Linked DNA regions of Homo sapiens. Changing the gene in region 1 together with any one later gene gives a genetic interaction. Each region holds a gene or a part of one and is shown in the gene's direction. Other genes may lie near its edges.

The links.
Region 2: changes in TAF1A (region 1) and TCOF1 together harm fitness more than expected from each alone (negative genetic interaction), as found in Homo sapiens cells (one large-scale study listed by BioGRID).
Region 3: changes in TAF1A (region 1) and FDPS together harm fitness less than expected from each alone (positive genetic interaction), as found in Homo sapiens cells (one large-scale study listed by BioGRID).

What each region holds. Positions count from the first base shown.
Region 1 is NC_000001.11:222,583,285-222,586,953, reverse strand, and holds part of TAF1A (TATA box-binding protein-associated factor RNA polymerase I subunit A), read left to right. Parts: intron 1-2,656; coding exon 2,657-2,826; intron 2,827-3,669. UniProt on the Homo sapiens protein: Component of the transcription factor SL1/TIF-IB complex, which is involved in the assembly of the PIC (pre-initiation complex) during RNA polymerase I-dependent transcription.
Region 2 is NC_000005.10:150,371,040-150,374,708, forward strand, and holds part of TCOF1 (treacle protein), read left to right. Parts: intron 1-966; coding exon 967-1,197; intron 1,198-3,134; coding exon 3,135-3,347; intron 3,348-3,577; coding exon 3,578-3,669.
Region 3 is NC_000001.11:155,311,866-155,315,472, forward strand, and holds part of FDPS (farnesyl pyrophosphate synthase), read left to right. Parts: intron 1-389; coding exon 390-530; intron 531-3,607. UniProt on the Homo sapiens protein: Key enzyme in isoprenoid biosynthesis which catalyzes the formation of farnesyl diphosphate (FPP), a precursor for several classes of essential metabolites including sterols, dolichols, carotenoids, and ubiquinones.

The sequences.
Region 1 (3,669 bases):
GAATATTTTATATGTCATGGATAGCCTGTTAAACCGAAAATACTTTTGGTCTGCAATGAGAAAATACTTGCAATTAATATTGACATTGTGCTGGTAATTAACCATAATAGGAAAACAAAATTGCCTAACAATTGTTCTATTTATTTTTTATGCTGGTAGATATCTTTTGGCTTTTTGAAGGGCATGCCCAGCAACCCCCTTAGAATAAAAACTTTGAAGACAGGGCCAGTCTGGATTGAAGCTGTATGATGAGTACCTGCGATAGTGCTTGGGACACAGTGGTGCCCAAAAAATACTTGTTGACAGATTGATAAGTTTCCAGATTCTTTGAGTAGCATATTAGAAGTTAGGTTGATGACACTAGTTCTTTATTGTACATCTCTATTCCATGTAAAAATGTGTTTTCCTTGACAATTTTTTTTTCTTAAAGTCATCAGGATCAAGTAAGACTATCTTTTGCTCATTAAAGAATGAAATGAGAGGAGAACTTTTCCTGAGGTAGCTAGGCTAGGTTGGAAGACAAAAGTATTTTCCAAACATTTAGGTATAGTTATCTAAAGTCAATTTATAATCTCAGTTGTGAAAGCTTGAGCGATAGAAGGGAGCTTAGCCTGAGAACAGTTCTCTCCTTTAGGTAAATAAGGGATGTTTTAAGGACGAGGTGTTTTGTCAGTTTCCTAGGCTAGCTGGCAGGTATTGCCACTGATGCCGAGCAGCTTTGGTGTAGATCTTATAAAATGCAGCTTCTGATTGAGAGAGCTGGGCATAGTACTCTGTAGTTGTAATGAGATTCCAGGTGATACTTCTGCTGCATGCCAGGACCACATTGAGTAGCAAGGGCAGGTCCCCAGGTGATTTGTATGTACATTCAAAAGTCTGAGAACACTAGTCTAGCACAGTAGTCTTCAAACTTTTCACTTTTGTATCCCCTAGTTTTTTCTGAAAAATTGAGTACTACCTTGCATAGTTTTAAGGAATCATCTGAAAAAATTTTATTGTATGTTTAATATTTGCAAGAGATAAAATTTCCAGCATGTTGGTATTTTTAAATGACTATATATTACTTTATATGTGATGGAGTCCAAATAGCACAGGAATGGCATAGGGTTTTAATACCTTGCGTTATTCATTTTAAAAAAAATTATGAACAAGCTTTTAATAGATGGACATTTTATGTTCCTCTTTGTTGTACTTCTTGCAATAAAAGTATGTATCAATATTTATACTTTTTTTGTTTATATCCTGTAAGTTTTAAGAATTAAAACTTTTTCTAGGTTGAGACATTGCTATCATTAATAGTTGTACACAGCTGATCAATATAACGTGTATTAAACGTGTTGTTGGCCAGGTGTGGTGGCTCATGCTCATAATCCCAGCACTTTGGGAGGCCAAAAGGAAGGATCACTTGAACCCAGGAGGTCTAGGCTATGGTGAGCTGTGATTGTGCTAGTGCGGTCCAGCCTGGGTGACAGAGCAAGACTCTTTTTTTTTTTTTTTTAATAAAGTTATCTAAAACTTTTCCCCAATTTTTTATGTATTTGTGGGTGACTTTTATGTATTTCTAGAATGAGAAAACATTTAGCATTGATTCTGCTATTTTTTTTAATTGACATAAATTCTGAGAAACCTTAGTCACATAAGTAAGTAGATGGCAGTGAATGGAGTTTAATTATAGCCGTGTATCAGGTCTGTGAATTTTTTCTAAATTATTGATGAAAAATTGCATAATGATTTATTGTAAAAAATTACGTTGTTCTGCAGTTTTGATGAGCAAAGAATTGGGAATTGCCTAACTTGCAAAAGGAGATGTTAGAGTTATTTACTTTTTCAACACCTGTGTTTTCACCTTCAGATAGTGTGTAATGATTTTGATTGTGAAGCTTTGACTATGTAGGCACAGCTGTCTAGGAGATTAACTTGTGGAAAGAGTATGTAAGGAAATCAAATATCTGCAAGTTAATTGTTTTAAAAGTATCTTTGTAAAGTACCTGTTGGTCTTTGTGTACTTACTGGGGTACAATTACCCAGCTGGACTAGAGGGGTCTCATAGTTACGTGGGAAGATAAGAAGATGTAGCAATGTAACTAGTCATTCATATAATAGCACTGTATCTAAGCCCAAATGTTCTTAACATTGGGATTGCCAATACTTTAGAGATATAAATGCTAATTTTTGCAACTGTTTTAATCTCATTTGTATATAATATCATTGAGTTACTAGGAATTTGGTCCTTAAAAAATAAAAGCCCACTTGGGGTTTGCAGAACATGGGTAGGTAATAAAGACCATGTTTGCCTAGAATGACCCTGACATTTTACCCATTCTAAATACCTGGGACTGTGCTTTTGGGGGCCTGTTTGAGAGATTCTCCGCAAATTATTTGGTACAAGGATGAAAGGATGATTGAATCAGATTTAAAGGATCTGGTGACTCTAGTAGCCCCAAAACATCAAATTAGAAATGTTTTTATCTGCTAAAAATAATTAATATAATGTAGAAGGGTTTGTTTCAAGTGAAGCTGGCTTTGGTACTGGGAATGGGCTGGGTCAAGTAATGCCTACTGTTTACTTGTTAAAACTTCTTATCAGAAGTAAGTTTTTTGAATAGTTGAACTGGAGCCACTTGGATAAAAACTCTCTTCTTTTTCGTTTTTATAGCCATTGGAGGGAAAAGGAGGAAGGATTTTGCTCAGACAACAAGTGCTTGTTTAAGTTTTATCCAAGAAGCTCTGCTGAAGCACCAATGGCAGCAAGCTGCAGAATACATGTACAGTTATTTTCAGACCTTGGAAGATTCAGATAGCTACAAAAGGCAGGCTGCACCTGAGGTAAATAAAATTTGAGTTTGCTGGAAGAAATGATAGATTCCCAGAAGTTTATGCCTACAGCTTCACCTACAGTAGCTTTTACAGAATCTCAGTGATTTTGCTAAAAGCTACTAAAACTACTTTTGAGTGGAGAGTTTGTATTGGGACCTTTTTTGCACACTTCTTTTTACCTCTTATTTTAAAGGGGACTAAAATGTTCATTCCAATAATTCTTCCTTTTCCCCCCTCTTTATGGATGTTTCCCATCATCATGTAAAAATTTTGTTATTCTATCTTTTTTTTTTTTTTTTGAGACGGAGTCTTGCTCTGTCGCCAGGCTGGAGTGAAGTAGCGCGATCTCGGCTCACTGCAATCTCTTACCTCCTGGGTTCAAGTGATTCCCCTGCCTCAGCCTCCTGAGTAGCTGGGACTACAGGCATGTACCACCACGCCCGGCTAATTTTTTGTATTTTGGTAGAGACGGGGTTTCACCAGGTTGGCCAGGACGGTCTCAATCTCTTGACCTCGTGATCCGCCTGCCTCGGCCTCCCAAAGTGCTGGGATTACAGGTGTGAGCCACCATGCCCAGCCTATTCTATCTTAAAATCATCTCTTGACCCAAACTTCCCCCATAGACTATACTTCATTGTTTTACTCTCTTTCAGCAAAACTTCTTGAAAGAGTTGTTCTCTTTTTCCAACTAGAGTGATCCTTTTTTTTTTCGTTTTATCAAGACGTTTTTTATACGCCATCACCCACTTAAATTGTACAATTCAATGTATTTTCATACATTTACAGAGTTGTGCAACCAACCATTACCACACTCTAAATTTAGAACCTTTTTTTTCTCCCATGAAACCAAAA
Region 2 (3,669 bases), on another chromosome or scaffold:
ACCATGTAGGAGACTATTGGAGTAATACTGATACTGGCATAAGAGGCTGGGGGCTGGGAGACCAAGGTGTCCACAGTTGGAAAGATGTTTTCAAGGGAAAACCAGCACAAGTCAGGGATGAACTGATCTGGTGCCCAGGGAACTTCTCACTTTACTGTGCTGCCTGGCCCAGTAACCCTGTGAAGGTTGAAAGCTCACCCCCATCTACCCCAGGCCTTACCAAGGGCTGCCCTCCACCTTCCGTCCTCACCCTTGCGCCCTAGATACCACCAGCTGTAAGGACATCCCTGGCTTCTGTCACCCCAGGCCTTGCCAAAGGGAAGAAGACCACTCCCAGCCCTCCATAAACACACAACCTCAATGGGCTGAGGCTGTGCAGAGCTCCAGTAGCAGACGCCCCAGAAACCCAGGGCCGCAAGGGGTCTGATGGATCTCAGAGGTAGAAGTAGGGCACTGACTGCCTGGGAAATGTCTGAATTGTGGAAGTGTAGGAAAGAGCTCACAGAGGGAAGGAATTTGCCCAAGGTGTGGCAAGCCAGTGGCAGAGGTGGTGTTCACATCCTGAACTCCTGGCCCTCAGGAGGGCTGCTGTGATCAGATACTTGAGTTTAAGGGGCAGACAGGATGCGCTCTCCTGATTGAGATGCAAGCCCTTCTCTCAGGCCAAGCCCGGTGTGTGCCAGGTGGGAGATGAACGTAATGGTTTTGAGATCTGTTCCAAAGTCAGACAGTCCAGGGTTCCAGTGGGGCTCTGTCCCTTCATATTGATCATGAGTGATTTTACCTCTTTAAGCCTTGTGTACTTTTCTGGAAAATGGATCTAAAGCTAATAGCCGTCTCAGGGAGTTGCTTAAAAATCCAGTGACATTAGGAAAGAGCTTTATCAACTGCTGAAGCCCCTAATACAGAACCTTAGGGGGAAACAGTAATTATTATTCATTTTCTAATTCCATCCTCTTGTTCCAGGGGAAACCCTCAGTAAAACCAGCCCAGGTCAAAGCCTCATCAGTTTCTACTAAGGAGTCTCCAGCAAGAAAGGCGGCCCCAGCCCCTGGGAAGGTGGGGGATGTGACACCCCAGGTCAAAGGAGGGGCCCTGCCCCCAGCCAAGAGGGCCAAGAAGCCAGAAGAGGAGTCAGAGAGTAGTGAGGAGGGATCTGAAAGTGAGGAGGAGGCCCCTGCAGGGACACGAAGCCAGGTGAGGCCTGGAGGAGGGCTGCCCCTTGGAGGACCTGCGGGTCCCCCAGCAGCCTGAGCACTCTGCCATGAGCACCTCTGCCACTGGAGTTGGGGAGAGGGAGGACTATGGTGTGAAGTTGAAGAGCAAGAACAGCCTGCTTCCCACAGGGGAGTCTTGCACTCCACTTTGTCTGTGACCAACTTTACCTCAGTTTCTCTGCCTAGTAAATGGGCCGCTGTCCTCGTCCCAGCCAGTCCTGCTGTGAGGGACTTGAGAAGTTTTGATTGCCTAATCCTCTGACTTCTCAGGACAAACCAGACCCTGAGCAGGCAAACACTACGTTAGCTAAAGGGAATCCAGTTCCCTTCCCCATCTGCTGGGAGTGGGCAGGGCTGCAGCCCCAAGGCCCTGGGTGTATCCCAAGGGCAAGACAGGGGGGCTGGAAAGCAATGGAAGTCAGAGCAGGAAGGAGGAAGAGTGAGGGTCACCCACCCAGCCCCAGGCCTGGGGCAGGACAAGGCGGGGGCATGCAGTAGATAAGCAGATCCCCTGCGTTAGCTGCTGGTAAATGGTAAAGAGGAAGTGGGGGACATAGGAATGGCAACTTGAAGCAGAGTGCTCTGGGCTGGCCTTGGGAGAAGGCGTCTCAGTAAAGACCAGAAGGAGGAAGCACTCTTAGGAAGGTCATTCCAGGCAGGGGCTCAGCAAGTGTCAAGGCCCTGAGGTAGAAGTAGGACTACGAATTGTGACAAATTGTTGTTCCCACCCCATCTACAGGGAACTTCTACGCCTCGGCTGTCTATTTTGCAGTGTCTGGGGGCTACACAGTGTTGGATGGGCATCCACTTTGAGAAGGAACACAAATGTGAATTTTTTTTTTGAGACAGAGTCTTGCTCTGTTGCCCAAGCTGGAGTGCAGTAGCGGCAATCATAGCTCACTGCAGCCTCACTCCTGAGTAGCTAGGAATACAGGCACACACCACCACACCCAGCTTGTGTGTGTGTGTGTGTGTGTGTATAGACAGGGTTTCACTGTGTTTCACAAGCTGTGGACTCAAGCAGTCCTCCCACCTTGGCCTCCCAAAGTGCCGTGATTACAGATATGAGCCACCGCACCTGGCCATAAATGTGAACTTTTATGTAAAATCTGCTTTCTCCATGTTGGCTCAAAAATTTAAAAAGGAGCTAGCCAAGCAAGACCTGTGTGGAGCAGCCTGCACTTTCTGCATGAGAAGCTTCTTAGAAGATCAGAGCTGCTGTTTTCTAGGGTTGTTGGCCCAGGGCTGAACACCCAGGGCCTTCCAGGGAAGACAGGGCCTGCAGCCACCCTGCCAAAGCCCCAAGACAGTGCAGAGCCCCACCGAGGAGTTAGTGAAGAGGGGGCCAGGTGTGCAAACCTTGCCCCATGAGGCTGAGGGTGGGCTTCCAGGGGTCCTGCTGCTGTCCATGTGCAGAAAGTCCAGTGAGGGCCTCCCTCAGTCCCTTCCCCACTTTCAGACTGCCTCTTCATTCCTTCCCTTCCCTGGGCCTTTGCACACCCCCTCCCCACAGCCCAGTCTGATGATGCTCCCGATAAGCCAGTGCCTGTGCCTCCAGAGCTCTCTGGCCAGTGGGAGCCCAGCAGAGGACAGGCTCTAACTACCCAGTGTGCTGGGGCACCAGGGGGAACCATGTTAAGGAAGTGGTGTCTCTTAGGGAGCCAGAGACAGAGGAGGCAGTGGCTAAGTGAAATGGAACAGGGGGCATGGAGGCTCCAGGAGTGAGAGTGTGTGAAGCTGATCGATTTTTGAGAAACCAGGAGGCCAGTGTGGCCAAAGTATCAGTCAAGGTGGGGAGTGGGGAGGGAAGCAGGGGAGGTCTTAGGAGCCTCATTAAGGCCTCTGGACTTTATCCTAAAGGCATCACCAGAGAGTTTTCACAAGCAGGAGAGCAAGCTGCCCTTTCTTTTTCACCAGGTAAAGGCCTCTGAAAAAATTCTCCAGGTCAGAGCTGCCTCAGCCCCTGCCAAGGGGACCCCTGGGAAAGGGGCTACCCCAGCACCCCCTGGGAAGGCAGGGGCTGTAGCCTCCCAGACCAAGGCAGGGAAGCCAGAGGAGGACTCAGAGAGCAGCAGCGAGGAGTCATCTGACAGTGAGGAGGAGACGCCAGCTGCCAAGGCCCTGCTTCAGGTGAGGCCTGAGGAGGGAGACTCCATGCAGCCAGGCCCGTCCCCAGAAGGCCTTCTCAGGACTTGTTCTCCCACTCTGGGCCAGAGCCCCGGGCGTGCCTCAGACCCCAGCCCCTTACTCCCCTCTCACTGTGTGGCATCATTTGCCCTATCTGGTCTTCTGTACGTGGTGTCCTGTGTCTCCTCACACGTCCATCCTCTGGGCTGTCTCCCCTTGTCTTGTTTCTCCAGGCGAAGGCCTCAGGAAAAACCTCTCAGGTCGGAGCTGCCTCAGCCCCTGCCAAGGAGTCCCCCAGGAAAGGAGCTGCCCCAGCGCCCCCTGG
Region 3 (3,607 bases), about 67 Mb from region 1:
GAGAGGCTGAGCCAGGAGAATTTCATGAACCCGGAGACAGAGGTTGCAGTGAGCCAAGATCGTGCCACTGCACTCCAGCCTGGGTAACAGAGAGAGAATTCATCTCAAAAAAATAAATAAATAAATAAATAAATAAAAACAAAAAATAAATTTACTAGGGTAGACCATGCAGAAAGAATGTGCCTGGGTACTGGGACCTCTTCTAGCTTTGCTCCAGAAATTTGGGGAAGGAGTAAAGACAGTAGCAATTCCAGAGGCTCCTTGAAGAGGAGTTGGGGTTGGGGAGGATAAAGTTAGGTGGTGGTTGGAAATGGGAGAGAGCAAGGAGAAAACTCACAGTAGCTGCTGTATGGACCCTGATACCCTGTACCTCTTTCCTTGCCCTCCAGGTCCTGGAGTACAATGCCATTGGAGGCAAGTATAACCGGGGTTTGACGGTGGTAGTAGCATTCCGGGAGCTGGTGGAGCCAAGGAAACAGGATGCTGATAGTCTCCAGCGGGCCTGGACTGTGGGCTGGTGTGTGGAACTGGTGAGAGGGGTAGGGCAAGGGAGAAGAAGTTTCCTGCAATGGTGGTGACTTGGGTGGGAAGGGGAGGGATGGGCCTGAAACTTATTTCTGGGTTGTGTTTGTGTTTCTTTGTCTCTAGTGTGCTACGGCCAAATTTAGAGTGAATCACTCCAAGGGTTAACTAATGTGGGGAGCCTCTTTTGGCATTAGGTATGAAGATGGCTGTAGATAGTTGTAGACAGTGTGGACTGGGGCCTCGAGACTGGGCAGAGAGGTGTCAGCTCTTTCCTCTGAGCAGAGGATGGCTATAAAAGTGACAGAGGAGGCCGGGCATGGTGGCTGACACCTGCAATCCCAGCACTTTGGGAGGCCAAGGGGGAGGATCATCTGAGTTCTGGAGTTCGAGACCAGCCTGACCAACATGGAGAAACCCCATCTCTACTCAAAATACAAAGTTAGCTGGATGTGGTGGCACATGCCTGTAATCCCAGCTACTCGGGAGGCTGAGGCAGGAGAATCGCTTGAACCTGGGAGGCAGAGGTTGCGATGAGCTGAGATTGCACCATTGCACTCCAGCCTGGGCAACAACAGCGAAACTCCATCTCAAAAAAAAAAAAAAAAAAAAAGGTGACAGAGGTCTTCCAAAGGCTATTCAGAAGCAGAAATTGAAAACTGGCAGCTCACTGACAGTATTTTGAAAATGTTTTACAATTAAGTCTCCTAAATTTAACAAAGAGATTTCACACTAAAACCTAGATTTCTAGCATGGCTTGGGAAATTGTAAGATTTGGGTCCATGTTCCCGCATAGCAACAATTGGCTGAAGCTGAGTGGATGCAACTTCTGCAAGACGGCATGTGTTCTCCTGTGTGCTTTCTCTAGTTTGCTCCAATCCCCACATCCCCTTGTCTTCTATACCAGTTCGTCTTGGTCTTGAAGGTGTCTAGTTTGCTGGCATGGCCTAAAGCTTTCATTAGTGGCAGGGGGACTGGGTTCTGGGAGGGGTGCCATGCCCGAGGAGGGTGGCAGTGAGCCCAAAAGGGAAGAGCATTCAGAACTTGGTGAGTGACGATGATGCTGAGTGCCTGGCCTGAGAGGAGCAGCTGGCTCAAGGGAAGACGTGCTGAGCACAGTCAGCCCGGGTACGTTCTTGGTATGGGTGGAGCAGGTGGATCTGCCTGTCCTGTGGGCGGTGGAAATTCCAGTCTGGAACTTGTCGGGGAGATGGGTCTGGAGAATAGAGATTTGCTTCCAAGGAGGTAATAGGCCCATGGCATCCAGGGAGAGGGCCCTGGATGACAGGGATGCTGAGGGGCTGAGGGGTTCAAAATATGGAGATGACAGGCAAGGAAGGAAGGGAAGGAGGATGAGGGCAGAGCAGAGGAGTAAAGCTATGGGGGCCAAGGGAAGCAAGACCTTGAGGGGCCAGTGGTTAACTGGTAGAATCAGTTCATTTTTTTTTTGAGATGGAGTCTCTCTCTGTTGCCCAGGCTGGAGTGCAGTGGCACCATCTTGGCTCACTGCAACCTCTGCCTCCCAGGTTCAAGCAATTCTCCTGCCTCAGTCTCCTAAGTAGCTGGGATTATAGGCACATGCCACCATCCCTGGCTAATTTTTGTATTTTTAGTAGAGACGGGGTTTCACCATATTGGTCAGGCTGGTCTGGAACTCCTGACCTTGTGATCCATCTGCCTCGCCCTCCTAAAGCGCTGGGATTACAGGCGTTACAGGTGTGAGCCACTGCACCTGGCCTAGAATCAGTTCTTAACCCTAGCAGCACCCTAGTTTCACCTGTAAGTTTTTAAAAATTTTTAATTTTTTTTTTTTTTTGATACAGGGTCTTACTCTGTTACCCAGGCTGGAGTGCAGTGGCATGATCTTGGCTCACTGCAATCTCTGCCTCTGGAGCGGAAGCCACCCTTCCACCGCCTCAGCCTCCCAAGTAGCTGAGACTACAGGAGCGAGCCTCTACTTGGCTTTTTTTTTTTAGAGACTAGGTTTCACCATGTTGCTGAGGCTGGTCTTGAACTTGTGGCATCGAGTGATCTGCCCATCTCGGCCTCCTAAAGTGTTGGGATTACAGGCGTGAGCCACCACGCCTGGTCTAAATTTTTTTTTAGAGACAAAGCCTCATTCTGTTGCCCAGGCTTGAGTGTAGTGGTGCAATCATGGTGTACTGTAGCCTCGACCTCCTGGGCTCAAGCGATCCTTCCACCTCAGCCTCCCAAGTAGCTGAGACTACAGGTGCCTACCACCACGCCCGGCTTTTTAAATAGTTTTTTGGTAGAGATGGAGTGTCACTATGTTGCCCAGGCTGGTCTTGAACTCCCGGGCTCAAGTGATCTGCCTGCCTCGGCCTCCCAGAGTACTGGGATAACAGGTGTGAGCCACTGTGCCTGGCCTGGGTTTTTTTTTTTTTTTTAATTTCCCTAATAAATAGAAAGTGCTGGTGGGGTTAAGAATCAGTGCTAGGAGGCAGAGGAAATTTGGGGAGGCCATGGAATTAATTATCTTGGAGACCATCATGGTTGAGTGGTGGTGGCTGAAACAAGATTGTCCTTGCAGTCACCCTTGGGAGAGGCAGTGAATGGGTGGCTTCAGGGAAACCATGCTACTCCAAATAAACACAGAGTCAATTAAACATGTGCCTTTGATGTGGAAAGCCCAGGACCTCCACACTACTCTTCTGAGTTTAGGTCAGAGGTAAAGATGCAGATGGATGCCTCCTTCCCTGAGGACCCTGCCTATAACAGCAGTGATTGCAACGGTCCTTTCCCCACGGCCCATGCTGGGCTCTGGCAGGCGGTGTTGCATGCTTCCTTTGCAATGTGGATCCACTACAGCACACAGGATTAGGATGGGATAAAGTCTTAAAAACCATGTCTTCTAGGCCAAGTGTAGTGGCTCATGCCTGTAATCCCAGCACTTTGGGAGGCTGAGGCAGGTGGATCACCTGAGGTCAGGAGTTCGAGACCAGCCTGACCAACATGGGGAAACCCCATCTCTACTGAAAATACAAAATTAGGCTGGGCGCAGTGGCTCATGCCTGTAATCCCAGCACTTTGGGAGGCTGAGGCGGGCGGATCATGAAGTCAGGAG